7 separate regions of the Homo sapiens genome follow, and regions 2, 3, 4, 5, 6 and 7 are each reported to be linked to region 1. Evidence: microRNA targets listed by miRTarBase, many of them from high-throughput screens and not tested one by one. Region 1 holds a microRNA gene; each other region holds the end of a gene's coding sequence.

The links. The annotated mature microRNA hsa-miR-661 reads UGCCUGGGUCUCUGGCCUGCGCGU and lies in region 1 at 3,160-3,183, opposite strand. An mRNA with a match to its seed (bases 2 to 7 or 8) in the 3' UTR can be bound and repressed. Matches are read on the target gene's strand: a 7mer-m8 pairs with bases 2 to 8, a 7mer-A1 pairs with bases 2 to 7 and ends in A, and an 8mer does both.
Region 2: miRTarBase lists TACR2 as a target of hsa-miR-661. The part of its 3' UTR that is shown has no 7-base or 8-base seed match.
Region 3: the mRNA of PRSS21 is a reported target of hsa-miR-661. The part of its 3' UTR that is shown has no 7-base or 8-base seed match.
Region 4: the mRNA of ARK2N is a reported target of hsa-miR-661. Seed matches in the 3' UTR shown: 7mer-A1 at 2,098-2,104.
Region 5: miRTarBase lists MON2 as a target of hsa-miR-661. Seed matches in the 3' UTR shown: 8mer at 1,989-1,996 and 7mer-m8 at 3,436-3,442.
Region 6: the mRNA of NT5C2 is a reported target of hsa-miR-661. Seed matches in the 3' UTR shown: 7mer-A1 at 2,264-2,270.
Region 7: miRTarBase lists KLHL21 as a target of hsa-miR-661. Seed matches in the 3' UTR shown: 7mer-A1 at 1,983-1,989, 7mer-A1 at 3,106-3,112, 7mer-A1 at 3,388-3,394 and 7mer-A1 at 3,721-3,727.

Annotation. Positions count from the first base shown.
Region 1 is chr8:143,942,047-143,946,322 of GRCh38, forward strand. MIR661 (microRNA 661) reads right to left here and starts at 3,233; the gene lies at 3,145-3,233. LOC124902040 (a long non-coding RNA gene) reads left to right here and starts at 1,818. Exons shown (of 2, transcript XR_007061144.1): 1 at 1,818-2,124; 2 at 3,520-4,276. It also overlaps a transcript of PLEC not described here. RefSeq lists silencers at 25-114, 335-794, 1,865-2,134 and an enhancer at 1,015-1,264.
Region 2 is chr10:69,400,910-69,405,185 of GRCh38, reverse strand. It overlaps TACR2 (tachykinin receptor 2), which reads left to right. Exons shown (of 5, transcript NM_001057.3): 5 at 102-1,283. The coding sequence ends at 360. It overlaps HK1 (hexokinase 1), which reads right to left. Exons shown (of 18, transcript NM_000188.3): 18 at 3,304-4,195. The coding sequence ends at 4,051. Among named protein-coding and RNA genes, the nearest start is that of TACR2, 14 kb to the left of the region's middle.
Region 3 is chr16:2,820,572-2,824,847 of GRCh38, forward strand. It overlaps PRSS21 (serine protease 21), which reads left to right. Exons shown (of 6, transcript NM_006799.4): 5 at 384-538; 6 at 795-1,148. The coding sequence ends at 1,034. It also overlaps the pseudogene EIF1P4. Among named protein-coding and RNA genes, the nearest start is that of PRSS21, 5.5 kb to the left of the region's middle. RefSeq lists an enhancer at 1-462.
Region 4 is chr18:46,261,268-46,265,543 of GRCh38, reverse strand. ARK2N (arkadia (RNF111) N-terminal like PKA signaling regulator 2N) reads right to left here. Exons shown (of 5, transcript NM_145055.5): 5 at 1-2,615. The coding sequence ends at 2,426. Among named protein-coding and RNA genes, the nearest start is that of ARK2C, 71 kb to the left of the region's middle. RefSeq lists an enhancer at 3,479-3,980.
Region 5 is chr12:62,591,750-62,596,025 of GRCh38, forward strand. It overlaps MON2 (MON2 regulator of endosome-to-Golgi trafficking), which reads left to right. Exons shown (of 35, transcript NM_015026.3): 35 at 837-4,276. The coding sequence ends at 1,000. Among named protein-coding and RNA genes, the nearest start is that of MIRLET7IHG, 8.9 kb to the right of the region's middle.
Region 6 is chr10:103,086,672-103,090,947 of GRCh38, reverse strand. It overlaps NT5C2 (5'-nucleotidase, cytosolic II), which reads left to right. Exons shown (of 19, transcript NM_001351169.2): 17 at 1-12; 18 at 161-337; 19 at 1,040-2,910. The coding sequence ends at 1,276. CNNM2 (cyclin and CBS domain divalent metal cation transport mediator 2) reads right to left here. Exons shown (of 8, transcript NM_017649.5): 8 at 726-4,276. Among named protein-coding and RNA genes, the nearest start is that of NT5C2, 100 kb to the left of the region's middle.
Region 7 is chr1:6,590,642-6,594,917 of GRCh38, reverse strand. KLHL21 (kelch like family member 21) reads left to right here. Exons shown (of 4, transcript NM_014851.4): 4 at 1,260-4,194. The coding sequence ends at 1,553. Among named protein-coding and RNA genes, the nearest start is that of KLHL21, 10 kb to the left of the region's middle.

The DNA.
Region 1 (4,276 bases):
TCCACAGAAGGCCTGGAGCCCCGCCTTCAGCACCTCCTCCCTCCCCCGTGTCCTGGAAACCCAGGCCAAAGCCCAGGCTGACGTGGAACAGCCGGGGGTGGGCCAGCCCCGCCCCCTCCAGCCCCGCCCCCTCCAGCCCCTTCTCTAGAGACAAACAAATGGGGGTAGGGGAACATCACCCCGCCTTCCTCCCCAGGTGTTTCCGGAGCTCGGGGGCAAGGCTGCACCGGGCCAAGGCGCCACCCCCATCCCAGCCCAGGCGGCGGTTCCCAGCAGAGACCCAGCCCCACTAGGTGAGAGCGATGGTGGCCCCTTCTGTGCCACCGGCCACGCCACTGCACCCACCTACGCAGCACAGCTGCTGGTAGAGGTAGCCCCTGCGGGCCGGCTCGCAGCCCCCGTCCAGCCAGCACGGCCGCTCCAGCAAGACCTCCCTCGGCGAGGCAAAGGCGCCCCCCGCCCCCGACATGCCGGCCACGGCCGGAGCCCTGGTTCGGCCCACGGACAGTGCGGGGAGCTGGACCGCGGCGGCGCCTCTGCTTCCAGCCCACGCTGCGAGGCTGCCGGCTTCGCTCTCCACCTCTTCCACCTCCCCCCCACAATCCGCCCACTGCGGGAGCGAGGCCCAGACCCAAAGAACCTGCCCCTGGCGCGCAGCCCCGCCCAGCGCAGCCAGGAAGCCGCGCCCCAACCCACGGGCCGGGCTGGGAGGCTGCCCTGGGACTGAAGCGGCATGGGAGGGGGCCTCCCAGCAGGATGTGCGGTGGGGACTGCAGGGCCCAGGGAGGAAGGCAGGGCATGGGGCCAGGTGGTGGGCAGACAACGCTGGAGGCAGAACCGAGGAGCTGAGCCGCGTCTGGCACCACCAGGGAGTAGAGGCATCCTGTGAGCCAGGACCGTGGCCGAAGGGGGCAATTGTGGGCTGAGGTGGGGAGGCAGGGACAGTGTCTGGTCCCCAGCCAAAAACATGGATGGGGAAGAAGCCCTCAGCCCAAGTCCCATCCTGGCAGCTGAGTCCCCGGCAGCTCCGGGCGTCCCCAGCGCCACGCCTAGAAGCCCCATCTTGACTCATCTCAAGTCCGGGGATCCAGCAGAGGAGCTGAGCCAGGCAGCGCCCTCACTGCAGGAGAGGTCTGGCCAGCCAGGTCCCCGATAGGCAGTCCCTCTGGCCAGAAGCCCATAATTGAGGCTGCCCAATCCCCAGGGCCCCGCCCCATCCTGTGCTGGGCACGGTTGCCACCTGGGACCACAGCCCAGGAGCTGGTGACTTTGAGCAGGGAGGGCAGGGCACAGCCTGGCTGCCCCCGCCCCCTGTGCGGCCCGAGGGCATGAGGGCACCTGCCTCACCTGCGTGTGGCTCCACCCCCTGCTGTGTGTGCAGGGAGCCACCTCCACCTCAGTGCTGGCCGGACAGGCACCTGCCCACTTGTCCCTGCCACGGCGGCTGCCACAGGCCTCCCTTCGTGTGGGGGACGCTCCTGCCCTGCCGGCCTCCGCTTCCACCCACCTGTCCCGCACAGGCTGCAGGCTGAGGGCCACTGCAGAGCCCGCCCCGCCCTGGGACTGCAGCAGGGTCAGGGTCTACACTGCAGGGTGGGGTGGAGGGGCAACACTGCTTTCACTGACATTCAGCTTGGAAACAGGAAGGGGAGGGCGCAGGGAATGAAGGGGCGGGAGGCAGGCGGCCCCTCTGCCCCGCCTCGAGTCCCTGGCAGCCACCAGCGGGGCTTACCTTGCTCGTCCTGCGCCCACCGACGTCCCCTGCGCCAGTGCCACACAGCGGCCAGGGTGACAACGTGACCCACAACCACCAGGGAGGGAAACAGGCTGCCCGAGGGCTCCATAGCCGCCACGCGGAGCCGCCAGGGCTGCCCTTCCTGCGCTGGGAACCGGCTGCTCCAGGCTAGACAGCCCCCTCCCTGCGTGCAGGGCGAGCGAGGGGGAGCGCCGGGACCGGAGCCTGCCCTGCCCGCAGGACCGCCCCATACGCGGCGGCAGCCCCACAACAGCTCCCGCCCGCCTCCTCTCCTCCTCCCTCCGCGGGTCCGGCCCTCGGCGCCTCCCCACCCTCGCTCCCCACCCGGCCGGCTCAGCTGTCCCTGCGCAGGGCTACTGACGCTCAAGGTTAGTTGGCCTTAACCCCTGCGTCCCCGCGGCCACACCCGCCGGGAGGAGGGGCCAGCCGCACGCCTGGCCAAGCCGCAGCCCCCCAGCACTGCCCGCGGCCTCGGCACACACCCTCCCTCCCTCCCAGCCTCCCCCTGCTGTCCCCACCAGAAGAGGGGCCCGAGCAGCCCACTCTGCCTCCAAGGCTGCCCTCTGGGGACAGCTGGCAGGCATGGAGGGATGCCAGAGCCCCCACCTCAAGCCTGCAGCTGAACCCACTGCACTCCTTCAACTTCGCCCTCCTCACCAGCCCCAACACCCCAAAAGTGAGACTGCAGACCAGGGCTGAGGGGGTCTGGGTGAGGGCACATGAGGCAGGCTGTGTGCAGGGCGAGGGACAGCGCCCCTGGCCTCCAGCCTCAGCCCCAGCCCTCTGGCCCCTGTCCCCAGCAAGGGGCCAGGATTTCACAAGGCTTTCAAGGGCTGCCCACCTACCGGGCACGATCTTCATCGGGGACGGTGGCAGGAGCCCACGGGGCAGACGGAGCGGGCCAGGGGTGTGGGAGGTCACAGGCCCCTCGGAGGAGGCACAAGCCACTGGCGGCAGCGTCGGGTGGGAGGAGGGCACGGCCGTGCTGCTGTCAGCAGCAGCTTGTGGGGGAGGGGAGCAGTGGGCAGGGGCCCAGGGGATATAAATATCCGAGGAGGGCGCGCAAGGACCGTCACCACCCAGACTTGGAACATGACGCACGGCGCCAGGGCACCCAGGCCCCGCTGCAGTCAGGTCTGGCTGGACGGTGCCACCCGACACCTCGGTCCCCCAGCTCCCACAGGGGGTTCTAATATAATAGAGCAGGGCGCGGGAGGTGCGGGCTCACGTCCCTGCAGGAGGCGGTGCAGTCCCCACCCACCTGCCCTGCCAAGCCAGGGGGTGCTCTTGGAAAGGCCACAGGGGCCAAGAGAAGAGGCCGCCCATTCTCCCAGAGGGCCCTGCGCAGGTCACTCAACACAGCACCTGGCCCCACCGGTGGCCGGGACAGCCACCCCAAAGTCACGCGCAGGCCAGAGACCCAGGCAGCCCGAAACCAGGGCTCAGGCCTGCGCCTGCCCCACAGCACAGCCTCTCCTGGGGTCCCAGGGATCTGGGATGGAGACGCCTCTCCTGGGCCACGGCAGGAGACTGGCCTGGCTCCACCCAGGAGTCCCGAAGCCCTGCTCTGTGGAAGGCCTGGGTCAGAGAGCCGGGCCACAGGCAGGCCCACAGCATATCCTATGCAGATCAGATCCCAATGCAGCCGGGGAAACAGGACGTGGGACACGCACAGTCCTGCTCCTCTTCCTGGGACCCCTGTCTGCTGGGCGCACCCCTCAGGCCCAGGAGAATGCACGTTGACGGTATACCCCATTCCACAGCGTCGCTCCTGGCACCACATGGAACCCTCAGCAAACCCCATGAAGTCCTATACCATGAAGGCCTCATACAGACCAGGAGCCTGAGGCGCCGCCTGCTGTCCCGCACGCTGCCATCTGAGCCCAGGTGGCCTCCAGTGTAGTTACCTCAGCCCACAGCAAGGCACAGTGAACCAGCCTGGCCCCGGGCCACTGGGCAGGCCACCCAGGTCCATGCTGGGAAGCCCGCGGACAACAAGAGGGCCGGGCCCACCCCAGCCTCCTGCTCTCCAGCCCCACACCTCAAAAACGTGCGGCCGAGGGAAATGCCTGCAGTGGCCCACTCTGGGCGGCCAGGGGTCGGGCGGGCCCAGGCAGCCCTGAGGGTCAGGGATACCCAGGCATGCCAGAAAGGGCCCAACTCCCAGCTGAGCCCAGGACAGCATCTGGCCAGCAGTGGGCAGGGGCCGACAGGCCGGACGTTTCAGCCCACTCCCTGCCACGTGCTGGGGAAGCCTCAGAGGAGCCTGACTCAATGGCCTGGGTGAGAACCAGCTCCTGGCGGGAGGAGTGCCCCAGGCTGGCAGCGGGCAGTTCTTCTACCACTCCACGGAGGTCCGGACAGGCCTGTGCTTCCGGGACACACATCACACACACCCCTGGGGCAGCTCCGAGAGGGGGCTGTGCCTATCCCTGCATCCCAGGTCTGACGGCACAGAACGGTGGACAACGGGAAGAGACAGGTCTGCCAGAGGCGGCCCCGGCCCTCTCCTCTGCCTCC
Region 2 (4,276 bases), not on the chromosome of region 1:
CTTTCCTCTGGAAGGGAGTCAGTTTCCTGGGGGTGGGGGCAGTCACATCACAGCTCCTGAGCCCCTAACTCCCTGGCTCAAGGTGCCCCTCGCTCCCCCAGGTTTCGCTCTGGATTCCGGCTTGCCTTCCGCTGCTGCCCATGGGTCACACCCACCAAGGAAGATAAGCTCGAGCTGACTCCCACGACCTCCCTCTCCACGAGAGTCAACAGGTGTCACACTAAGGAGACTTTGTTCATGGCTGGGGACACAGCCCCCTCCGAGGCTACCAGTGGGGAGGCGGGGCGTCCCCAGGATGGATCAGGGCTATGGTTTGGGTATGGTTTGCTTGCCCCCACCAAAACTCATGTTGAAATTTGATCCCAATGTGGCAGTGTTGGGAGGTAGGGGTTAGTGGGAGGTGTTTGGGTATTGGGGATGGATCCCTTATGAATAGATTAATGCCTTCCAGTTGAAGTGAATCATCACTCTTGTGGGAATGGACTAGTTCCCAAAATAACAAGTTGTTAGAAAGAGTGTGGTGTCCTCAGTTTCCCTGTCTTGCTTCCTCTCTCACCATGTGATCTCTTTGCACACAACACTTCCCTTCCACTTTCCACCATGACAAGAAGCAGCCTGAGGCCTTCACCAGATGCAGCTGCCCAATCTTGGATATTCCAGCCACCAGAATCATGAGCCAAATAAACCTCTTTTCTTTATAAATTACCTAGTCTCAGGTATTCCATGAAAGCAACACAAATGGACTGAGATAGGTGCCTATTGAACCCTGAAGCCTTGTGCCTGGCTGCAGAATGAGGTGTAGCACCCTTTGAGAAGTAGCCAATCGAGAAGACCACATCTGAAAGTTCAGCTCATGCCCCATCCTTCAGTATACCAATACAAAGACAACATGGGGCCAGAACTCCAGAAAGGATGCTGACTTTAAGAGGACTCAGCCACCCATCTCAGAGAGCACTTCAGAGGATCCAGTAAGGGTCAGAAAAGACAGTGTAAGCTGATATTTATCTAATTTAAGAGATGCAAGCTCAAATGCCTTCCTGGGGCATACAAGAATATGTATAAAAGAAAAACTGCAAATGTGATGATAAAAGGCAACTGACTTCCACCCTCAGTTTGAGCTAATAGGGAATGGTGGGGGCCATGGCAACCTGGAGAGGACAGGCATTCAAAGGGGACAAGAACTACTCAGCTCTGGACAAACGTTGCCACATGATAATGGGAGCCCACTGTTGCTAGATCTTCTAAATCTTTCAAGAGAAGCTATAAATCCACATTTGTATGTGAGTCTTCCAGATTTGTTGAATTTGACCCAAATTTTCATAAACTTTGCATAAGTTAAACAAAACGTATCTGTGGGCAATGCAACCATGACCCTGATTCGCCATCAGGCTGTGGATACAAAGGAGGAAACTTCTTATTTCACAAAGCCCAGTGACTGAGTCAGCTGAGGGCTTCTCTGTCTCAGTATTTAAGAAGTCAGATACAGCCCACGTAGATGGTGATTAAGAGCCAAAAAAATCAGCTGTGTTTCCTCAGGCAAGTCACTTTGACCTCTGCCCAGTATCAAAACTACTTCACAGGGATGCTGTGAGGAACAATGGGAGTAATGCCTATAAACTAGCAGGCCAGACCAGATTAAGTGCCCAATACATGGTAGCCAGGACTTTCTTTTTTTTTTTTTTTTTTTTTATGAGACAGGGTCTCACCTCACTCTGAGACCCAGGCAGGAGTGCAGTGGCACCATCATGATTCAGTGCAGCCTCAACCTCCTGGGCTCAGGGGATCCTCCTGCCTCAGTCTCCCCTGTAGCTGGGACCACAGATACATACCACCACACCCAGCTAGTTTTTAAGTTTTTTGTAGATATGGGGTCTTGCTATGTTGCCCAGGCTGGTCTTGAACTCCTGGGCTCAACCATTCCTCCTGCCTGTCTCCTGAAGTGGTGGGATTACAGATGTGAGCCACCACACCTGGCTGTTAGCCATGACTTTTAACTATTTCACACAAAAGCCACCTACAAAGCAGCAGCACAGCTCCCACTCCCACTTCTGCAGCAAGAAGCTAGAGGGCAGAAAGCAGCAACTGTCCCAACTCCCAGAAAGCTCCCGGTCTGGCCCAGCCCATCCCAGGGGCACACCTCCTGCTTGCCAACTCAGCCTCCACGCCCTGGTTCCCCTGCAGAAGAGCCATGTAACATTGTCAATGCACACTGGAAGGTGTAATGTTATCTGTGTTCTCCAAAAAATCACTGCTCCGTAGACACCAGCACCATGCCCCTAATAAAGGGACTCTGATCTCACCAAACCAGGTGGTCTGGCAATCGGTCTCGCAGGAAGCCACTTAGAGCCGCAGCTGTGGCTTGGGACATCACAAGGTGCTTGGGTGCAGAGTGACATGGAACCCACCAAGGCTGGGGGAGAATCCAAAATGGTAGCCTGGGGATAGACCAGGAATCTCTTGAGGTGGGGGTGGGAAGGGAGAGTAAAAGGTCAGACAAGGGTTAATTTCCTAGGGATGAGGTCAATCTAAGATCCAGAAGGGGTGGGCCGGGAGCGATGGCTCACGCCTATAATCCCAGCACTATGGGAGGCTGAGGGGGGCAGATTGCTTGAGCTCAGGAGTTGGAGACCAGCCCTGGCAACACAGTGAGACCCTGTCTACAGAAAATAAAAATAAAAAATAAAGAAAAAAGATCCGGGAGCGGGAGCGTGCAGCCAGCCTGGGCTGCTTCAAGATTTCATCTGTGTTTGGGTAGAGAGGGAGGGGAGGGGTGGGGCAGAGCACATTTCATCCTTTGTCTTGGGGTTGGCAGAGAGGAAGATGAAGGGCAGGATCCGGGTGGGGATGGCAGAGAGGGGACCAGTGTTGCAGTCCTCTCACTGAACCCAAGCAGCCTGGAAGCCAAGTGGCCTTGTTCTATAATCCCAGCACTTTAGGAGGCCAAGGCAGGCAGATCACTTGAGGTCAGGAGTTGGAGACCAGCCTGGCCAACATGGTGAAACCCCTTCTCTACTAAAAATACAAAAATTAGCTGGGTGTGGGGATGCACGCCTGTAGTCTCAACTACTCAGGAGGCTGAGGCAGGAGAATCACTTGAACTCGGGAGGCAGAGGTTGCACTGAGCTGAGATTGTGCCACTGCACTCCAGCCTGGGTGACAGGGCAAGACTCCATCTCAAAAAAAAAAACTCCTCCGCCCAGAAGGCCACAAAACTCCCCAGTGTTTGGTCTTTGCCACATCCCAAGAAACTGCACCCCCCTCTGCCTGTCCCCCCGTCCCCAGCCATTAAGCATCACTCGGGTCTTTGAATTGGTACAAAGTTTACTAGGTCATACGACACGGCTCACAAAGCGGTGGGAAATTCCAGTGATGGCATTGTTTGTTGGTTGGTTCCTTTTATCCAAATGGAGACAAGACACATTTCCGCAGGACTGTCCACCTCCCCCCACGAGACAAACAGAATGCAAGACTGTCACACGCGGCTAGGACTGGTTCCACGGACACACGATTTTGTGGCATTGACACACCACGATGCGATGCCAGGCCACAGTGGGTGCCAGGAGGGGAGGAAGCAGCTAATGCTATGCCCACACTCGCCTTCAGGCAGTGCCCCCGGGAGGGAGGCCCGGCAGTGTCTGCTGGTGATAATACATTTCACACAGGGAGGGGGAACCCCAAGGATGGGCTTTGGAGGCCCAGAAGGCCTGTCAGGTGGTGTGATTTTCCATCTCCAGCCAATAAATAACTCTGTTGGATGAATGCATACATTAGAAATGGATGCCACTACACTTCACACGTGGGGGACCAGGTCAAAATCAAACCATGCAAAGTGGCAGGGCAAGTGAGGAGGGATCCGGGTGAGAGATATTATCAACAGCACACGCTCTATTCTGTACCCTACAATATATACCATTAGTTGGATTTTGCTTTCCTCCCCGCGCCGGCAGGCCCTGGCGCCAGCGTCTCCCAGCGCAACTCGCTGGGAGGGTAGGGGGTCGCCGCTTGAAGAGAGAAGTGCTGGAGAGGCAGTAGGCTGGGGATCCCGGACTCTTAGCTGCTTGCCTCTGTGCGTAACCGCACGCCCACGGCCGTGATGAGGGCGGCCCCCTTGCCGCTGCCATCCTCAGACAGGAGGAAGGACACGTTACATTTTGGTGACAGTTCCTTCACCGTCTGGTGCATGATTCTGGAGAAGCTAAAAAGGACGAGAAAACAGAAGGTAGTTGGAGGAAGATGAGAGACGCTGGGCCTACCCGAAAACACCAAAGCACAGACA
Region 3 (4,276 bases), not on the chromosome of region 1:
GCCAGGGCTGCAGCCAGGCTGCCCCTCCCCCAGGTCTGGCTTTGGATGCTCATCTGAACACCGTCTCAGCTGCCTTCGCCCCTCCCTCGGCTCCTTTTGGCTGAGGAATCTCTCCATGGCTGCAGGCAGGGCCATTGTTGCCATTCTACAGATAGGGAAAGTGCGGCTGGGGGAGCTCTGACAGCCTGTCCCTCCCCGGGGCCTTCTGTGATGCTGCTGAGGGCCTCTGTTGTGCTGGGGTCTGGGTTGGAGCTGGGGGTAATGGAGATGAACCTGCCAGGCACAGTGGGTGCCCCAGGGCCCCCACCCCCGCAGCCTATGCCATCCCTCCATAGAGGGGCCTCAGGTTGCTGTCTCTCTCCTTCCCACTATCGTCCGCACAGCACTGCCATCTCCCCACACCCTCCAGGAAGTTCAGGTCGCCATCATAAACAACTCTATGTGCAACCACCTCTTCCTCAAGTACAGTTTCCGCAAGGACATCTTTGGAGACATGGTTTGTGCTGGCAATGCCCAAGGCGGGAAGGATGCCTGCTTCGTGAGTGTCCTTGCCACCACTCCCAGCCCAGGAAAGCATCCTGTGTCCCTGTGCCTTATTTGACCCTCATGCCAACCCCGGGAGGTGGAGACTGTTGCCCCACTCTGCAGATGCAGAAACGGAGGCTTGGCTGCTGCCAGGGGGAGGAGGAGGATGTGCACCCAGTCTACCCAGCCCCATAGCCCTTCCCACTCTCAGCCCCTCCCCTGCCCCACTCACTCTGCCCCAGGCTGACCTCAGCCCCGCTGCTCCCCAGGGTGACTCAGGTGGACCCTTGGCCTGTAACAAGAATGGACTGTGGTATCAGATTGGAGTCGTGAGCTGGGGAGTGGGCTGTGGTCGGCCCAATCGGCCCGGTGTCTACACCAATATCAGCCACCACTTTGAGTGGATCCAGAAGCTGATGGCCCAGAGTGGCATGTCCCAGCCAGACCCCTCCTGGCCGCTACTCTTTTTCCCTCTTCTCTGGGCTCTCCCACTCCTGGGGCCGGTCTGAGCCTACCTGAGCCCATGCAGCCTGGGGCCACTGCCAAGTCAGGCCCTGGTTCTCTTCTGTCTTGTTTGGTAATAAACACATTCCAGTTGATGCCTTGCAGGGCATTCTTCAAAAGCAGTGGCTTCATGGACAGCTCATTCTCTCTTGTGCAGACAGCCTGTCTGTGCCCCTGGCTCACACCCACATCTGTTCTGCACCATAGAACCATCTGGTTATTTCGATCAGAAAGAGAATTGTGTGTTGCCCAGGCTGGTCTTGAACGCCTAGGGTGGTCTCGATCCTCCCGCCTCACCCTCCTGAGTAGCTGAAATTATAGACGCACATCATGCTCAGCAATGGAACAGGAGTAGTTCCAGGGTGCCAGGAGCTGGGAAGCCTGGATTGGGGGTGTGTGCATTGGAGGAAACAATCCTGACATCCCTCACCCCACAAGGATCCGGCACAGAAACGCCAGACATCCTGATCTTACTATGGTTCCCCCAAGGCTGACCTAGGACCAGGACATAGGTGCAGGTAGTTTATCTGGGAGGGGATTGCAGGAAATGGGGAAACCGAGGCAGGGAAGGAAGGAACACCAATGAGCTTACACAAACATAGAGGGTACCATTCTAGGCAACTGGGGTGCAATCCTGTGGGGGCCTCAGCGTTGGCCCACTGAGGACAAGGACACCACGGTGGGCGTTTCTCTCTTGACCACTCCCCCCACCATGTTGAGAGTAGTTCTGGGGCACGGGATGCCTCAGAGCTGGGGCAGCCCCGAGGTGAGGCTCTGAGCACCCAGAAAGTAGGCAATAATGGTTCCCCTTGTGGGACTCCAGCTGGCTCCAAGTTCGAAAATCATGGTCCTCCCTTAGCGATGTTTTTATTTTTTTATTTTTATTTTTGCAGTTTATTGCATAAAGGAATTACACTAGTTCAAGTTAAAAGCAGACCTCAAATGGTTAAATTAGACAAACTGTGAGGTTTTAAAACTTGTAACAAGGGAAAGAAGGGAAATTCTACTCATTACAGGGAAATCCTCACTTAAGTTTCAGTGAGCCACAAGTAGTTAAAACCCTTGAACCATCAGCAGATCGTCCTTAGCCAGTCCCACCTCTACAAGGAACTGGCATATGTTCTTGCGCTGGTCACCCTGTAGCTGAATGACTTCTCCATATTCTGGATGCTCAATTACCGTCCCATTGCAGGGAAATTTCCTCTTAAATGCCTTCACTAGTTGCTTTTTATTGTAATCCTTAGTGATCGCTTAGACAGTGCTAAGGGTTTTCCTGTCATTTCTCTGTTAAATCCTTGCATGGATGTATTCCTCAGTGCCTGCAGGGAGCAGGTCATCACTCTTACTTAAATCAGCAAAGGGGTGGAAGAGTGGAGATTCTGGACAGTGGACATACGAGATGACTCCTTTTCCTCAGTGGAAACGGGCAAAACTCGGGCCAAGGCGCCAACAGCCACAGATTTCCAGCCAGAAAAACAACACCCCAGAGATCCTGTAACATTACGAAGGCTTTGGAATGTCATATTTAAATTGTTTATAGATCAGTTTTATCATCTACCTGTAGACTATATTGGACCCTAAATTCTAAGTTCCTCCAATCCAGTTTTCTCCTACGGAATTATTAAAACTGGAAGCTGCTCTTTCATAAATGCCCTGCGAGCTAAAACAAAACAACTTAACATAAATATCAAGGGACAAGTATTGTGCCTGATGTGTGGACCGCACAGAGTTCACCAACCATCCAAGGCCATAACCAGAGACATTTTAACTGCAAAATTGCCGGCTTCATACTGCAGCTTTTCCCAAGACCATCAAAACGAGATTCCGTATCATGGTGGTCCACTTACCTCTCTTAATGCGCACCTTTCTCCCTTGACAGGATAATGTGTAATTAAAATTTTACAGCCAGTAACTGCTTTGGGTAACTTAACAGAACTGGACCTAAAAACATGCTTCACTCCACCTAGTGGGTAACTTTGGCGATATCGCTAACACAACTTGTTCAAATTGTACTAGTGGTCCCTTTTATAGAGTTGGCCCTGTTTTCTGCTTTATTTCAACCCAGTCATGAAATGCTACTTAATGGCTACAATAGCTTTCAGCCAGTTTGCCTGTCATCCTTTTTTTTTTTTTTTTTTTTTTTTGAGACAGAGTCTCACTCTGTCACCCAGGCTGGAGTGCAATGGCACGATCTCAGCTCACTGCAACCTCCGCCTCCCTGGTTCAAGCAATTATCCTGCCTCAGCCTCCTGAGTAGCTGGGAGTGCCATCATGCCCAGCTACTTTTGTAATTTTTAGTAGAGACGGGGTTTCACTATGTTGGCCAGGCTGGTCTCAAACTCCTGACCTCTCGATCCACCCGCCTCGGCCTCCCAAAGTGCTAGGATTACAGGCGTGAACCACCATACCTGGCCTAGTTTTTTGTTTGCTTTTCGTTTGTTTGTTTGTTTGCTTTTGTTTTTTTAAGAGATAGGGTCTCGCTTTGGCACCTAGACTGGAGCCAGTGCAGTGACGTGATCCTAGCTCACTGCAACTTTGAAGTCCTGGGCTCCTTCCACCTCAGTCTTCTGAGTAGCTGGGTCTACAGGCCCACACTACCACCACCAGCTAAGTTGTTTAAAGTTATTTTTTGTAGAGACAAGTTCTCACTTTGTTGTCCAGGCTGGTCTCACGTGGGCAGTTAGCCCCAGACCTCCTGCCAGATGCCCCAGCCCAGCCAGGTGGTCCGGAATCCATAAATATTTTTTAAACCTGTGAATATACACTTCGAGATTTGTGATTTCGTTGTATGCAAATTGTGCTTCAAACTGGGAAAAGCCCAACCCCCCAAAAGTCTAGTTAACGATACGCATGTGGAAGTCCCTGAGGGTAAGTGAACTGAGGTCTGCACCTGACGTCTGAGGAAAGAAGATGAACCAATGAGTGGACGGAGGGTCCGGGACATGGACAAATGCAGTGACACCCACACAGGAGAATGCTGAGGACTGGAGAGGCAGGGATTGCGTGGGTGTCACTGTCACCTTTTACTCTCCAGTATGTCTGAATTTGGGTGGTAAATGTAGGGGAAATGTCTGTTGACTTTGTCCTTGGAGGACAGCTCCCCAGGGCCCATCCTCAGCTTCTGCCATCTTGGTCCATCTGGATCGTCCATCCTCGAGTCTGGAAAATTCCAGGCCCTCCACATGGCTTGCTGTGGGGGCTGCAGTCAGGAACTGGCCTCCCGGACCAGCGACGCCCCCCACAGGGC
Region 4 (4,276 bases), not on the chromosome of region 1:
TCAGGCAGTTGGGAGCTGGACTAGGAATAAGTGAGGCAAAAGTGCAAGCTGACATAAAGGCAAAGGGCCAGAGAAGAGACTGGTTACAGCTCCACTCTGTTCCTAATCCACAGTGCACACAGCACGCCAACTCTGTAGAGGATGACTATATTAGGGACTATGAAGAAAATATGTCACACGGGAAATCACCTGCTGTGTGGAATTGGGAAAAAAAATATGTGGTTAACATAAGAACAGGTCATGCAAAAACATTCATTAAAATGGGCCTCTGCCCTGACAGTGGGGGAAAAAATAAGCTGCAAAAACTTCAAGTCACATCATCCACTCTATTCTCTTCTCTATGAATTTCCTGGAAAACACAGACCAGAAATTGTACATTTCTGCTTTGTCTAGTATTTTAATTCAAGTCAAAAACTATGTGTAACAGTAAAATTCAATAAATTAATCCTAAAGTAAAATGTGAAGGTCCAAGGATACACCAGTAGTGAATCTTCAGAAGGTCCTACTTTGCTCTGGCCTCTGGGTCTTTGGTTTTTGTCTAGAATTGTGGCCATGTGAGAGACTGATATATGAGTTGCTAAAGCTGGAGGTTCATGATCTTAAAAGCCTTATCTAACAAAAGCAGAAAATAAAAATAAAAAAAATAAAAGCTGATGAAGGACAGAGGCCAGATCAAATGAGATGCTATCAGAGAAGATCAAAGAACATATGCACAAATACATTCCTGTGGAAGAAGGAACATACAGGAGAACTAATGCAACAAGAAGCGTAAAGGAATAAACTTGTCTTTACAAAAAAAAAAAAAAAAGAAGAAGATGAAGAAGAAGAAGAAGAACAGGCTGGGCAGGTGGAGGCAGGCAGACACTGATGCATGTGTATGTGCGGTGTGTGTCATTCATCTCAGCAGCCCCCAGAGCACCCACCCCTCACAGTGCCTTATGCAGAGCAGGCACTTGGTAAATTTGTTTGCTGAATGAAAACTGAAAATGGTAATTCTCATACTCTTAATGATAAGAAGAGCCACCAGGGGATTTGGAGAGACAGGCAAAGGGCCATAGCAACGGTAACAATGGAAACAAAAACAAAAACAAAACAAACAAAAACCATGAAAAACAAAAGGTGAAGTCTTCTAAGCCAATATTACTTCACTCCCCCTGTGCAGAGTACATAGTGTTCTAACTCTAGGTATTGCTTTTAAAAGAATTCACTAGTAACTACAACATATTATAAGAAAGAAGGTAGTAACTAATGCCACAAAATTCCAATGCTGGCATTTCCTGAATTCCCTGAAGCTCCTGCTACCCTTTGCTAATCCTTTTAGACTCTGTAAAACTTACCAATGACATTAACGTGCTTTGCATCTGATTTCTTATGGTACATTCTGATTCTTCTTATGGTATTTTTTTTTAGAAGGTAGAGGAGAAAAATACCCAAATACAGCATCAGGTCCACTTCATCTCGGATGTTAAACAGTTGTTGCTACATACTCTTTATACAGAGACCAGCTATGAAAGACGGCACTTTCCTCTCGGATTTGCAAGTGCCTGTAGCCTCAGAGGCCACATAACTTTTCATATTCTTCCCAACAGGTTTCTATGTTCACCCGTTATTTGACTAAACCAGAAAAAAAGGCGAGGGAGAGAGATTTTTCCCACTGAACTCTTAATACCTTCAGATGCCCAGAACACCTCATGGTGGGTATCTATCTGAAATGCCTCTGTCTCAAAGGAGACATTTTGCAAAGAGTTATTAATTATTGCAACAAGGAGAACAACTAGGTCACCTTAGTAGTATTTATAAACACAAAGGGACATGTCAATTATCTGTGCTGTGGGAAGTCAACAGGAGCAAACTCAAGAAAGAAGGCAGAAGACTTAAAATAAAAGAAAATATAATTTTAATACTTCTGTCTTCTATTTTTAAGGACAAGTTTTTAAATGCACATGCCCTACTAGGTGCCAATAAGGACCTGACTGATATGTGTGCGAATGCCCTAAGATGGGAGTGCCAATGGGGTGGGCAGATAGTGGTCAAGTCTAGATATTAATTTCATTATACAGAAAAATAAATACAAGATTCAAAAACTGAAACCCATTTTGCCTGGCAATTAAAATATTATTCTAAAAGGAAGGCAGAGTTTCCTAAGATTAAAAGTCACCAAGTAAAATAAAGTTGTCTAATAAAATTCATCATTCTATATTCCTACTGAGGGAAAGAAGAAATTCTTTTCTCTGTGATGTTATTTTCCTAAGTGACTTCTTTTAATTAAAAAAAGGGGGGAAGAGGAGGGAATTTTCCATGAGTTTGAATCCTACAAATGCCACAAACAGCTTCTGAAGCTGAAGCTATGACAATGAACTTCCATGTCACAAAGAGGATGAGGAAGTGGAAGGGAACAGTGCAGAGGAAACACAGTGACATTGTATTACAGTAGGTATTTACGCCTGCTATCCTCATCCAAGGTAAGGTCAACAACTTCTGCTGGTGAAGCCCAAGTCTGCTGGGGAGTCACAGCAGTCCATGACTGTGTTTGCCTGGTGCTAACATACTGCGTGCCCGAGCCATGCTTCCATGAAGAAACACTCTGAATCACACCACCTCGAGGATGAACACACCTGCAATTGAGATGAAGAACAAAAGCATGGTTAATTCCACCACAGGAAAAACAGAAGACAATATGACCTCAGTTGTACTTATCAACATTTTTACTAAGATAAACCTAGTATGCAAGTTCATAAAACCCACAATCAATATCCTTCCCTCCATCTCTGTCTCCCTCTCTCCCTACCCCACCACACCCCACTTGGTCCCTCTCTCAGTTTAGCCTTAAAAAGGCCAAGGGTCTTATCTCAGCCAGAAACTCCTGAGTTGTGTCACTGACCATGGGTGACAGGATGTTTCTCTGGACTCATTTACACCTCTGGGATCTTCATGATAGGGCAACACATAAATCCAGAACAAAGTTAAGATGCCCAAACAATCTTAGTCTGAACAAATCAAACAGTAAGAAAAATAGTTAAAACTTGTTCTTAAAATAAGCTTTATAATTGGTAATAATGCCTTCAAAGACAGTGACAGTAATACCCTTTCACAGATTAAATTTCTAAAAGTCTGTAAGTAATAGATCATGAATAAAGGATCAATTTCCCTTGTCCTGAAGGTCACAACAGAAGCACTTGGTTCATTCAACAGAATCGCTTATAATTTGGTTCCGTGAAAGTAACACAGCTGAATCTTCAGTTTAGATCCACTAAAAGGGTTCTATCGGAGGGAGAGAACTGCCTTGTTAGCAAGTCACACCAAGAGTTCACTGAAATAAAATTGTTTCAGAAACACTGACAGTTTGAATTCCACAGTCCAGTCAAATGATAGAATTGTGAACCTCCAGGCCAAAACACTAAGTTCTGACTCAAATGAGAGGAAGGCAGGCAACTCATGTGATCAATGCTATGTCCTCTCATCTAAACTTCCTGACCAGCCCTCAGGTAGCTTATGTGAGAAGTAACAAGTGGCATGAGTCTAGTCACTAAACTACCACAGTGGCTCCTGAGCAGCTGTTTGACAATCTGTAAGCAACAAATAATGCTGGGCCACTTGAGAATTTCAGCTTTGGTTTAATGCTACCTACACCACCAGATTCAAAAGAACATTAGGGTAACAATGGACACGATTCAGTTGCAAAACTGCCCCAAGGACCCTTAAACTCCTGCAAACATGCCCTACTCCTACAAAGGCTTAATCTGATAACTTCTCCCTTACTAAGAAAAATTCCTAAGAACAGATCTCTCAGGGCCAGAGCAGAGGGCAGAACGCAAATTTGCTACAGTACCAGAAGCCCGTCATCTGTCCAGAGATGGGCTATGTAGTTACTAACCCAGAGGCTACTACCTTTTCAAAGATTAGCTAGAGAAATAAATAGGGACATTAAAATAAGGGACATAAAGCCCAATGTCTAATTCACATCTGTTCAACCCATTATATAAATTCATATTAAGTGACCATGTAGTCATGGAAAAATGTCAGCCAAAGGAGTCCATTCAACATTTATAGAAATGGTTTTGATGACTGAAGGCCAACGGAACACTACCTTTACTAAGCAGTTTCACATATATTATCTCATTGGACAATTCTGACAGACCTATGAGGTAAGCATGGAATTTACTATCCTCACTCTACAGAGAGGGAAACTGAGGCTTAAACAGGTTACATGATTTGCTCAGAGTCACAATGCTTGAAAGTGATAGGCCAAGGAAGACAGGTCTGATTTTGGGTCCAA
Region 5 (4,276 bases), not on the chromosome of region 1:
AATTGACACCCAGTAAATTGTAGTGAAAAACAGAATCAAAGCTCTCTACACATAGTATTTATTTTTCTTTAATACTATAATGCCTCTTAGATTTGAGACTTGTTTCACAAAATTTTAAAAATACCTAAAAGTCTAAAAAAAATCTTGCATATTGGGTGCCCAACATTATGCACAATACTTATAGGAAAATATAACTAATTGGGATATAACACTTTTGTCCTTTCAGTAGCAATAGCATTTAGCTGTACTATTTGTTCATGATAGTGGTGAAGAAGCCAGACATGGTTCCTCCCCACTCAAGTCTACATCTAATGATATACATTAAAGATTAGCAAACAGTACAAGACAAGAATGGATCTGTTTGTGACAGTTTGTAATTAAAAGGAATATCAAGGATATTACTGGGAAAATCATTAAACATATTTTGTATTTCAAAAGATTTCTACTTTTAGCAGACAACTGAAAAAGTTATTTTCTAATTCTTGAAATGTACACTACATCCTCTCGCAATTATATTAAAAATGACAAAGGTTTGGATTGTTCTGAATTGCTTTGTTAGCTTTCAGAGCCTTCACAAATTGAAATACCATTTAAAATGTACTTTATCAAATTTATTGTTACTGATGACTGCACACTGAGCATATATTTTTTCCCATACCTTATTAAATATAGCAGGAAATCTTTGAAAAATTAAAAAGATAAAAAGATACAAGCTTGTAGAATCTTCATGTTTCAGAGTTTTTTCTTTACATGCAGTTTAAAGGATTGTGTTCATGTTAATTGAATAATCTCTATTTAATTCCACCCTTTTGAGGTTTTATACTTTTGCATTACAGTTGATGGAAATACCTGGGCACAAGTAATTGCCTTATACCCAACTTTAGTAGAATGCATCACCTGTTCTTCTTCAGAAGTCTGTTCTGCACTTAAAGAGGCACTAGTTCCTTTTAAGGATTTCATGCAGCCACCAGCATCCAGAGTTCAAAATGGAGAATCTTGACCGGCTACAATATATTTGAAAGCAGGAAGATAGTCTAAAAAATGTTTGCTCCTAATTGAGTCTTCTGTGAGAAGGACATTTCTTACTGCAGATAATTCTTGGCAGCTGTTGTTGGCCTCCTTTAAATTCTACTTACCTGAGTTCAGTAATTCATATTACAGGCTTGCACATCAACAAAGGCTCCTGAATGAACAGCAGTGTAAGGCTTTAATAAATTAAACTGATGGGAGGGATAATTAACACTACAGTATACATGCTACCATATCTCCAGTTGGTGATTTAAAGTGAGCTTATGTACAGTTTGTGGTGTATGTGTTAATGATGTACTTTTTAAAAAGAAAGAAGAGATATTTCAATTCAGTCAGATTTATTAGTCTGGTGTTTTTGCACCCTTTTTCAAGTACAAAATCGTACTAGAATTTTATGCAAGATGGTACTGTAACATTCCATATTATCTATAACCAGCCTTTGTTAACAAAGGGAACTGATATACTTGTGTGTATAATAAATGGTACAGTTCTGTATAAAATAGTGCATTTATTTAAATTTTAAAAGTATTGATAATGTTAAATGCTTAAAGCTCTATTTATTATTAATACAAAATTGTTTGCTTACATTTTTACTTATAATTTGCCTTCATATGTGGCGGATAAGCTCACCATATGATCATGCAGTTAGCTTCATGCTTATTTTAAATGTATTATTAGTGACCATTAAACATCTGACCAGTAAGGTCATGTGAACACAGCAGCAAATAGTTTATGATTTGCTGATTTTGGAGCTTTGAAATATAGGTTCTTAATACATTGATACATATTGTAGCACTATGACTTCATCATACCTCATTTCTTTAAACAGCTCTCCAAGCTTTCACTGAAGTCTGTCTGTTTTTTATATTGGCTGTCTGGATTTTAAAGACTTTTCATATTTTATATTTCTACTGATTTTGTTTCCCCTAACAACATTTGTCACTGTCTTTGAATTATGACCCAGGCAAGATGATTTCAGATTTTCTAAAATCTTGCCTGTGAGGTTTTGTTCATATCAGTGCTTCATTTTGTAATGTCTTCTCAAGAAAAATACCTATGTTAACTCACAAGTATAAAATATGTGTGTATTATAAAACAATGAAAAGTGTATTTTTGGAGATAGTCAAGCATTTAGAAGTGCAGTGAACTTGCTGTCACGGAGTAAAATGCTAATTATGTTTCACTTTCCTAGCCTAGTGAAAAAGAAAAGTGCTCTTGAGTACAATACCTTAATTATTTCTTAAAATACTGACTTTGACCTAGCTCACTGTATTTTTTATTTAATGGATTATGGATTACAGTATTTTTCTTCTGAGTTAAATTTTCATAATTTATGTGAAGACACAAAGATGTTTAAAACAATGATTATTCATAAGAAATCATGATGGTCTCAGTATTATTTTAGTGTATTGGAAGGTCTTTGATCTTAATAGAATTTATAAATTTCAGCTTCTCCAGAATAATCATAAAACTGCAAAAAGATATTATAATTGAGTCATGATTGAGATACAGTTTTGAGGCTATTATAATTGTATAATTATTTAATTTGCATTATCTGTAAAATGTAGTAAGGTCTTTGAGGGGATATTTTTTATTTACATGAATTACTGAATTTCTATTTTATTATTTCACCTAAAATTAAGGTAAAATATGGCATTTCATAAGTTCTGCTTTCAGCATTTTCCTTAAAGTTGTAAAAAATCAAGCTATGTACTTATTTTCTATATTTGGGTGTGTTAAATTGAGGATTAGAAAAATCCACATAATCACTGATAAAGCATTGAAACAGAATAACCCAAGGGTAGTGTACCGATTCAGTAACATGTTAAAAATATTGCTATGCATTTATTCAAAGGAAAATGGTCTGTTCTTGAGAAATAAAAGATCAGTTGCAATTAGGATAATTAAATAGTTAAATATGAGTCAAGTGTATGCAATATACATTTATATGAACCAAAGCTTGCTTTATCAGGACCATGCCCTACAGTTCAAAACATAAACATAGTGAATGTGTTAATATCATATAATAAGGTAATAAATGCCAGTCTTAGTGTGAAGCAAGTGGGTGGCCCCCTTGGTAGTATAATTGGACAGGATTTTCCTCCAGAATATTTCCTGTCACCCTCCAAGAGTCACTACAGTAATTGATTGCTGGCATGGAACACATTGCCCTTGTCTTGTTAGTATGAATTGGGTTCTCCAGTGACTAGAAGAACTGGGGTGTGTGAAAGTATTCGATGCCAGGAGATTCAAAAAGGAAGCTCTCAAAGATAAGATCATTTTATGGCACAATTGAGTCTATAACCAGCCCTTTAAGCAGTAGTAAAAATGTCCTTTGTCATACTTACTAGAAATACTATGAGTTTTTTTTTTTTTTTTCATTTGAGACGGAGTCTCGCTCTGTCACCCAGGCTGGAATGCAGTGGCACGATCTTGGCTCACTGCAACCTCTGCTTCCCGGGTTCAAGCAGTTTCCTGCTTCAGACTTCCAAGTAGCTGGGATTACAGACATGCCACCATGCCAGGCTAATTTTTTTAATATTTTTAGTAGAGATGGGGTTTCACCATTTTGGCCATTCTAGTCTTGAACTCCTGACCTCAGGTGATCTGCCCGCCTTGGCCTCCCAAAGTGCTGACATTACAGGCCTGAGCCACTGCGCCCAGCCAATACCATGAGTTTTAAGCCTCACATCGTCACTTGCTGTCACTGCCAGTGCCTGTTTTATTCATATTGCTGGACAACAGACATATGCCACCAATTGTATGATTAATAAAGTCTTTTTCTGGCCATTTTGTCCATTATAAAGGAAATAAACTAATTGTTAACTTGCATAGATTACTTCTTAGTTTCCTATGCTACCACCACTGCCAAGGGAGAAAAAAATACATCATTTTGTAATGTCTTTAGTATTTCTTTATAACTAGTGTTAAGGTTTTGTTAATTTTATTGTATACATTTGTAACATTTATTAGGAGCCTTTTAGGTTCCAAAACAAACAAAAGGCATAAAAAAGTCTAGCTTAGAACCACTTTTCACTTGCTTTCATTTTTAATTTTATTCACTTAACAGCTAACATCTTTCTTGTTTCTTGTTTTTTCCATTATATGGTTATCGATTCAACTCTTGCTATATTCCTTAAATTTGTATGTATCATCAGAAGAAAGAGATGAACAATTTAGTGTAGATATTTTATTCTGGAGAATAATATTCAATTAAATTATTTCTACAGCAGGCCAGTAACAACTA
Region 6 (4,276 bases), not on the chromosome of region 1:
AGACGTATTAAGGTATCCAAATGGGATTTGGGAGAAAACTTGGGAAATAAGTTTAAATGCTTTTTTCACATTCCTGATTTATTATAGAGACTAGCATTCAACTACTGCTCAATAAATATTTGTTGAATGAGCCAAGAATCAATCTTGTTCTTTGTTTTAGAAAGTAACTCATGACATGGACATGTGCTATGGGATGATGGGAAGCCTGTTTCGCAGTGGCTCCCGGCAGACCCTTTTTGCCAGTCAAGTGATGCGTTATGCTGACCTCTATGCAGCATCTTTCATCAACCTGCTGTATTACCCTTTCAGCTACCTCTTCAGGGCTGCCCATGTCTTGGTGAGTTAAAGCTGTAATGGACAGCCAAGATGTACTCTAAGCCCAGGGTCAGCAACCACCTTTGTGAGATGGCACAGGAGATAGTTTGAACATTTCTTTCTGATGTACAGAGCCCAGGGGCAGGTTATATGGTTGCATAAGAAGGGGTCTTTGAGAAAGTAGAACCAACATTGGAAGTTAAGAGTGTAACTTTACTCTCTGAAGTCTACTCTATTAAAAGCTGTATGTGGGCCAGGCATGGTGGCTCATGCCTGTAACCCCAGAACTTTAGAGGCTGAGGTGGGAGGATTGATTGAGCCCAGGAAGTCGAGGCTGCAGTGGGCTGTGATTGCTCCACTGTACTCCAGCCTGGGTGACAGCGAGAGACCATCTCAAGAAAAAGAAAATGTGGTTTTTACATTCCTTTATTCTGATCTGTTTCAGGACTATCTTGTTTTTGCTGTAAAATAGAAAGTAAACTCCCCTCTCCATCTTTTCCAATTTCCAGCTGCAGTAGACAATATGGGCACCATTTTGAGGGGCAGGGAGAGAGGAAGACAGGCAACTATAAGTAGTTCTATGAAGATAAGTCTATATTGACTTGTCCTGTGGTCCATTATAGATGTAATTGCATGGCCACCTAACAGAGGAGAGGGGTTAGGATTTGGGGAGTAGCTACTTTGCTCTGCCTGCTTTCTGAGCCTCTAGCTTTTTTCTGTCTAGATGCCTCATGAATCAACGGTGGAGCACACACACGTAGATATCAATGAGATGGAGTCTCCTCTTGCCACCCGGAACCGCACATCAGTGGATTTCAAAGACACTGACTACAAGCGGCACCAGCTGACACGGTCAATTAGTGAGATTAAACCTCCCAACCTCTTCCCACTGGCCCCCCAGGAAATTACACACTGCCATGACGAAGATGATGATGAAGAGGAGGAGGAGGAGGAAGAATAAGGAGGAAAACCAAAACCCCAAGCACCCATTAAACAAGTCCTGGCAGGACTCACAGGAACAAACGAGGTCCCTGTTAGGGTTCTACTCGGGGGAGGGAGGGGGCTCCATGAAAGGTACGTCTGAAAAGTTTCTGAAGATTTTATTATCATAGATACTTGTTTTGGTTTTGTGTATCTGTACTCTCTGCAGATGGTCCAAAATTGTAATGGAGTCTGTATTAGAAGAAAATAAGGGTAAAATCAGGCTGAACTGCATGTATATGGCTCCACTGTGGCTTGTGACACTTTTAAAATCATCCGTATGTCAGTGTATCTGGATACACGAGGAAAAGGAAAGAGTCTCAGAGTGGAACAAAGAGTGGGAAGAGGTGATCTGTAATGTTACAAATTGTGCTATTACTCCAAGGTCCAACTTTTCCAGTGCATTACATGGTATTGTATATCAGTGGAGAAATGTATTATTTCCATGATCAAATGTAGTCTCTGTTAAGGTCAAGTTTTCTTTTATAAGCCTTTAATTCATCCTCAGTGACTCTGGCAAGGCTGCTTCTCTATCACTGGCTTTGCACAGAAGTATGCTCTACTTGCGTTGCTTTAGGGCAGGATTCTATTTTGAGGGAAAAGACAGTATCCTTATTACCTTTTGTTTGTTTAATAGCACAAATGCTTATTTGTTATCCAAAAACAACCTCCTTCTTATCTGTGATAAATCTATAGAAAGAATTTAGCTGCAAGTGGACAAAGGAACAAGCCCCCAGAAAAGAAAGGGAAGAACTGCCTTCTTATACTACAGAACATGCATTAGTGTGGGCTATATAGCTGTGGCTCATGCTACCCAATTCCAGATTTCTTTGTCCTCTAAGAGTTGATTGCTGTATATTAAAATTGAACATCAGAGGATGGGAAGAGGGCTCTGTAAGCCAGAACCTTACTAAAGTAGAGGGCACAATCAGTGTGAATAAATTCACTTCAGAATCTCAAGTCAAGGCCAGGCACGGCGGCTCACGCCTGTAATCCCAGCACTTTGGGAGGCCGAGACAGGCGGATCACCTGAGGTCGGGAGTTCGAGACCAGCCTTACCAACATGGAGAAACCCCATCTCTACTAAAAATACAAAATTACCTGGGCGTGGTGGTGCATGCCTGTAATCCCATCATCTACTCAGGAGGCTGAGGCAGGAGAATTGCTTGAACCCAGGAGGCGGAGGTTGCAGTGAGCCAGGATTGTGCCATTGCACTCCAGCCTGGGCAACAAGAACAAAACTCCATCTCAAAAAATAAAAATCCCAATCCCAAGTCGAAATCACCTCTTGTTTTAAACAAGAATGAATCATTACTGTGTATGTTAGGGTATTAAAACTGTTTCACCAGTACAGTGAAAGTTGTTTCAACATTTTAAACAAACAGTGGTTATAGACTCTTTCTTTAACCATTGTATATTTTCTTCCATTCTTGTCATTGGTCAATAGGGGAGGGTAGATTAGCTGCTCCAGAATTCAATAAAGTGTAATATTTCTAACGGTGACTTTGACCTATTCTGTAGTACAACTGTAATAGCTATTGGTCTTCAAGTGGGTTTAGATTTGGTGACATCAGTTTGATATTCTCTTAAAGGAAATAAATATTCAAGAACTGATTATGTTCTAACATGATTATATTCATGGTGTTACATAGGCCTCAATTTTTTCACAGAAAGATTTTTGGAACAGGACTGTGAAGTGAGGCTTTTTAAAAAATTATTTTATAAGCAGAGAACACAGCCTGATAACTTAGTCAAGGATATACTGTCTGTCTCACTACTTTGGACTTATATGGCTTCAGATTAAGTCATCCAAGAAACATACATACATTCTAAATGGTATATATTGGGAATATATGCCCCTTTAAAAGAATCAGGTCAGAAATGCAATAACAATTAGACTAGACTGTTGCCCGTGTTAGGAGAATGTGTGGTCATCCTAGTTACTAATTACTCTCACTCAAGATGGAGATGTTGTCCAGTTTAACATAGTCTTAAGTTTTCTTAAACCCAAATAATTTATGAGTAGCTTATTACATCTGCAGAGCTACCTTATTATAATAGTACATTTACATATTGTCTCTTTTAGAGTAAGGACCACATGATTGCTTTGCTTTAATTTACCACTTTTTGTATTGCATCCATATAAGAGTGTCTTACTAGCCAGATGATTCCATGGCAAATGATTCTCTGGGTCCAAAGATCGGAAAGTGAAAAGCACACAGCTGGAATAAGCAACAACTCCACTGCTAGTTACAGCTCTCCGTAGGACCACCAAAACGTATTCAAGAGCTCTAGGATTCCATAAGACCCAGAGCAAAATGGTGCCTCTCTGTATATTATTCTTAAGAGTGTGCTGGGAAGTCAATGGTCCATGGGTAGGCAGGGCAGCTGTAACTGGGCTTTTTAAAACAAATTATGAGTTTTCTCTCTGTTGCCAGTAGTTAAGGAAGCTGAACTTAAAAGGTATACTTTTTTCCTTAAAAAAAAAAAAAAAAAAAAAAAAAAAAAAAATCCTGCGGAGTTTTATACCGTGAGAAGACCATTCTGCCACTTCTTTTGAGAATTTTTTCCCAGGCATTTTGAAAACACTATAGGCATTGTAGAACACCAGGCAACCCCTTCTTGGTTGCTAGACTGAACTCCCAACCTTACAGCATGTACTGACAGGTCCCCTAGCCTCCCCAGCAGTTGGTCAGTGGTACAGCAGACCCAGGCCCTGCTGGGTTTCCTTGGGCAGAGGAATTGCCCAGTACATTCATTCATCTCTGCAAAGATAGATAGTCAGTGAAAACTCTGATGGTGTACTTCAGAAAAGTTGGTCACAGCCAAGAAAGTTTAGGGTTCTATTTAGACCTAAGATTTTTCTCTTGCCATAAGCATACCTCTGCTGAGACCTAAAATAATAACGCAAACCCTTCAAGCTACCCTAAGATACTTTTAGAAGTCGTTTTTAATAGAACTACAAATCCTTAAGTCACAT
Region 7 (4,276 bases), not on the chromosome of region 1:
CAGTAATTTTTTTTCTCATATGTAGATACAAAAGGATATTCTTAAAATTTTTATAGAGACAGGGTCTTGCTGTGTTACCCAGGCTGGTCTCACACTCCTGGCCTCAAGTGACCCTCCTGTCTCAGCCTCCCAAAGTGCTAGGATTATAGGCGTGAACCACCACGCCCAGCTGGTTCCTGAGGAAGTCAGTGTGGGAATACTTTTTTTTTTTTTATACGGAGTCTCGCTCTGTCACCCAGGCTGGAGTGCAGTGGCACGATCTCGGCTCACTGCAAGCTCCATCTCCCAGGTTCACGCCATTCTCCCGCCTCAACCTCCCGAGTAGCTGGGACTACAGGTACCCACCACCACGCCCAGCTAATTTTGTTTGTGTATTTTTAGTAGAGACGGGATTTCACTGTGTTAGCCAGGATGGTCTGGATCTCCTGACCTTGTGATCTGCCTGGCTCAGCCTCCCAAAGTGCTGGGATTACAGGCATGAGCCACCATGCCCAGCCCACTGTGGGAATACTTGTGTTGAGCACTTGCTGTGTGTTCTGAATAGGACAACCAGGGTCCACCCCTTCTCTCTGGGCTTGTTGAGAAGAGGGGTGCCCAGCCTGACAGTGATGGGACAGGGAGGCTTCAGTGCCATTTGGCCATGTGAGCAGTGTTAGTCTGAGGTACACATCATATTGCCTACAGCCTTCTTTCCTGTGTGTCTGTTAACATTTCCAAACCTACACTCCGTGACATCCAGCCTCACAGCTTACATCACAGCTTAATGTCCTGGCATTTAAGAGACCCAGCGTTCTGTTTTCCCCGCAGTAAGCTGCACATAGTCATAGCGAATTTGGGAAAGATGGAAGGAATCATCCAGCCTCGCGGTTCAGAGCCCAGCTCTGCCACTGTCAGCCATGCAAGCCTCAGTTTTCCCATCTGTAACATGGGGAGAACAGCACTGCTCAGCCCAGAGGGCCACTGCAGAGATTCTGAGAGAGAACGTAGGAAGCGCTGCTCGGCACGACCTGCACACGGGGAGGCCTGGCGCTGCAGCGGGCACCCTCATCACCATAGGGAAGGCCCAGCTGCCTCCGGGGAGGCCCGTTCTCCTAGGCAGGGTGTTGGAAAGGGGTTGGCCTCTCTGCTGCTTTCTGGGAGAGCCAAGGCCACCCCTCTGGGGTACTGACAGGGCATGCCTTGTCTCCAGTGGTTCCCCAGGTGGGGCCCTGCCCTACCCTCTCCTCTGACCTCCACTCACTCATCCCTTTGGCCCACAGGTACATGTGGGGGGCAGCCTGGCCGTCCTTGGGGGGAAGCTGTACGTCTCTGGGGGATACGACAATACATTTGAACTCTCGGACGTGGTAGAGGCCTATGACCCAGAGACTCGCGCGTGGAGCGTGGTGGGGCGGCTCCCAGAACCCACCTTCTGGCATGGCAGTGTCAGCATCTTCCGCCAGTTCATGCCCCAGACCTTCTCGGGTGGGCGTGGCTTCGAGTTGGACAGTGGCAGCGATGACATGGACCCAGGCCGACCCCGGCCGCCGCGGGACCCCGATGAGCTGCACTAGCCCCAGTCTGGCCCGGCACGGGCCTCGGTGCAGGTAACTGGCACCTCTGCGGGGCAGTGCCCCACTCCTTTGTGCACAAGGACACGTTGGGCTCACAGGAGGAGCACAGGCTCTTGGGTGGCGAAGCCAGCCCAGGATCCATTACCTGGAAGGTTTCTGTACCTTGAGAGCCTGAATCAGAGGCCGTCGGGAACGCCCTCCCTGCAGTTGAGGAAGAGCCACTTTCCTGCCAGCACATGTTTCTGGGTCTTGGAGGTCACCCCCACCCCGCGGATCACAGCTCACCCACGCGGCGCACACCCCTCCTGCCGTTGTCATCTGCACCTACTTGTTCCCACCTTGGGAGAGGACGATGACTTGGGAGGGACGCGTGAAGGGAGAAGGGGTCCTCCCATGAGGCTGAGGATGGCCTGAACCTGGAGCAGCGGACCAGGCAGACGGGCTGAAGTGGGGTCCCAAATTCCATGTCCAGAGGTGTGGGGAGCCTGCCTCCCTAGCTCCTGGCCCCTGCCAGGGGCTTACATCAAAACACCTCAGAGGGCTGCCCTCCAGAGGCTGCACCCAGAACAGTGGGACATGAGCAGGGGTGTGGGCTTGGAGGGTGAAGAGGATGTGGTCCTATCAGATGCTGGGCCTCCTCAGCCATAGCCCCCTGCTCCTACCCCCTGACTGGCTCTTGCGTCCTCACCTCTCACCCTCTCCTTCCCGGGAGGCCCTGGGAGGTGATCATTGACACCCAGCCAAGCAGACAGCTGCGGGTGCCCAAGCCCTTGCTGGGCCTGCGCGTGAGGAGTCCCACTGCTTCTAAAGGAAGTCCTGGGCAGGAGGTGGCTTTGGTGGTTGGTTCCAAAGTTGAAAATGCTTGCAGTTTGACCTTAGAAGAAGTGGGAAGAAGAAGGAGCTCTACAGGGTCAGCTTTGTTTGATTTGTCCAGTCTAAGAAGTCCCATTGCCAAAGCTTTCTGCAGGAGGGTGAATGCCGCAGCTTGGCAGCCCCTGGGTTTCTCTTGGAAATGGTCAGTTTCCCCTCAAAGTACCCAAAGTAGCCTTGGCTTGAGTTTTTGTCCTTGCCTCCTTTTTAGAGAAGAGGGCATTTAGACTGCATTTTCCTGGTTAAAGAAGGTTAAAGCAAATGTTTATTGCCTTTTCTAGTGAACTAACTCGTAGAGATGTTCTCAGCAGGAAGACAGTCTTAGCACTGTCACTTAGCAGATTGCACTTAAGTCCCTTGTGCTGGCCAGATGGCGTGGCTGGTTGCCTTAATATGTCCCAGGACCCCTGACAGGGCTGCCTGGCCTCTCCCTCGTGCTCCTCAAGAGCCCAGTCCATACACTGTGGATGTCATTGCTGTCGGGTTAGGAAGTCTTGTCCTAGAACGCCCTGGCTGGTATGACCACAGTTCATGGCGGCTCTTCTCGCTTGGGTCATGGTCATCTTCCAGCACCTGCTGTGCTGGGAAGGCCGAGGATGGGGGCCCAGCACTGTCCAGGCCTGCTGGGGCCTGGCTGGGAGTCCTGTGGGCAGCATGGAACATGCAGCTGGGCTTCCTGTGACCAGGCACCCTCTGGCACTGTTGCTTGCCCTGTGCCCTGGACCTTTTCCTGCCCTTCTCCTTCCTCTGCTCCCTTGGGGCTACCCCTTGGCCCCTCCTGGTCTGTGCAAACTCCCTCAGGGAGCCCCCCTGCCCTGTAGCTCTCGCTTAACTTCCTAGGGGCTGCTGAGCCCACCCAGAGGTTGTTGGAGTTCAGCGGGGCAGCTTGTCTCCCTTGTCAGCAGGGGCGTAAGGGCTGGGTTTGGCCATACAAGGTTGGCTACGCCCTCAATCCCTGACCGTTCCAGGCACTGAGCTGGGCACCCACGGAAGGACATGCTGTCCAGACTGTGATGACTGCCAGCACAGGGCATCTCGGGCTTGGCTGGTCTGCGAGGCCTTGCCCCTGTGGAACTCTGGGTTCCTGTTTTCTCAGTCTTTTTTGCGGCTTTGCTGTGGTTGGCAGCTGCCGTACTCCAGGCTTGTGTCGGCCACTCAGATGAGGGCTGTGGTGCGAGCCAGTGCAGGAGAGCTGCGCTTGGGATTGTGCCCTCTCCTGTGTCTGTCCTCCGGACCTACCCAGGTCTCCACCATCAGGACCCTGTCTTTGGGTTTAGAAGACCAAGTATGGGGAAAACCAGGCACCAGCCTCTGCAGCAATGGGTCCCTCTAGCCTGTGGACACCAGCTGGGGGATCCAGGGTCAGGCCCCCTCCTCTCCCCAGTTTCCCTCTGCTGTGGGTTCTGGGCTGTCATGTCTCCACCACTTAAGGATGTCTTTACACTGACTTCAGGATAGATGCTGGGATGCCTGGGCATGGCCACATGTTACATGTACAGAACTTTGTCTACAGCACAAATTAAGTTATATAAACACAGTGACTGGTATTTAATGCTGATCTACTATAAGGTATTCTATATTTATATGACTTCAGAGACGCGTATGTAATAAAGGACGCCCTCCCTCCAGTGTCCACATCCAGTTCACCCCAGAGGGTCGGGCAGGTTGACATATTTATTTTTGTCTATTCTGTAGGCTTCCATGTCCAGAATCCTGCTTAAGGTTTTAGGGTACCTTCAGTACTTTTTGCAATAAAAGTATTTCCTATCCATTTGGAGTCATTGCCTTTGTCCTCCTGCTACTGTCTTCTGGGACTCTTGGGCTGAGGACAGATGTCAGGGGAACAGGCAGCA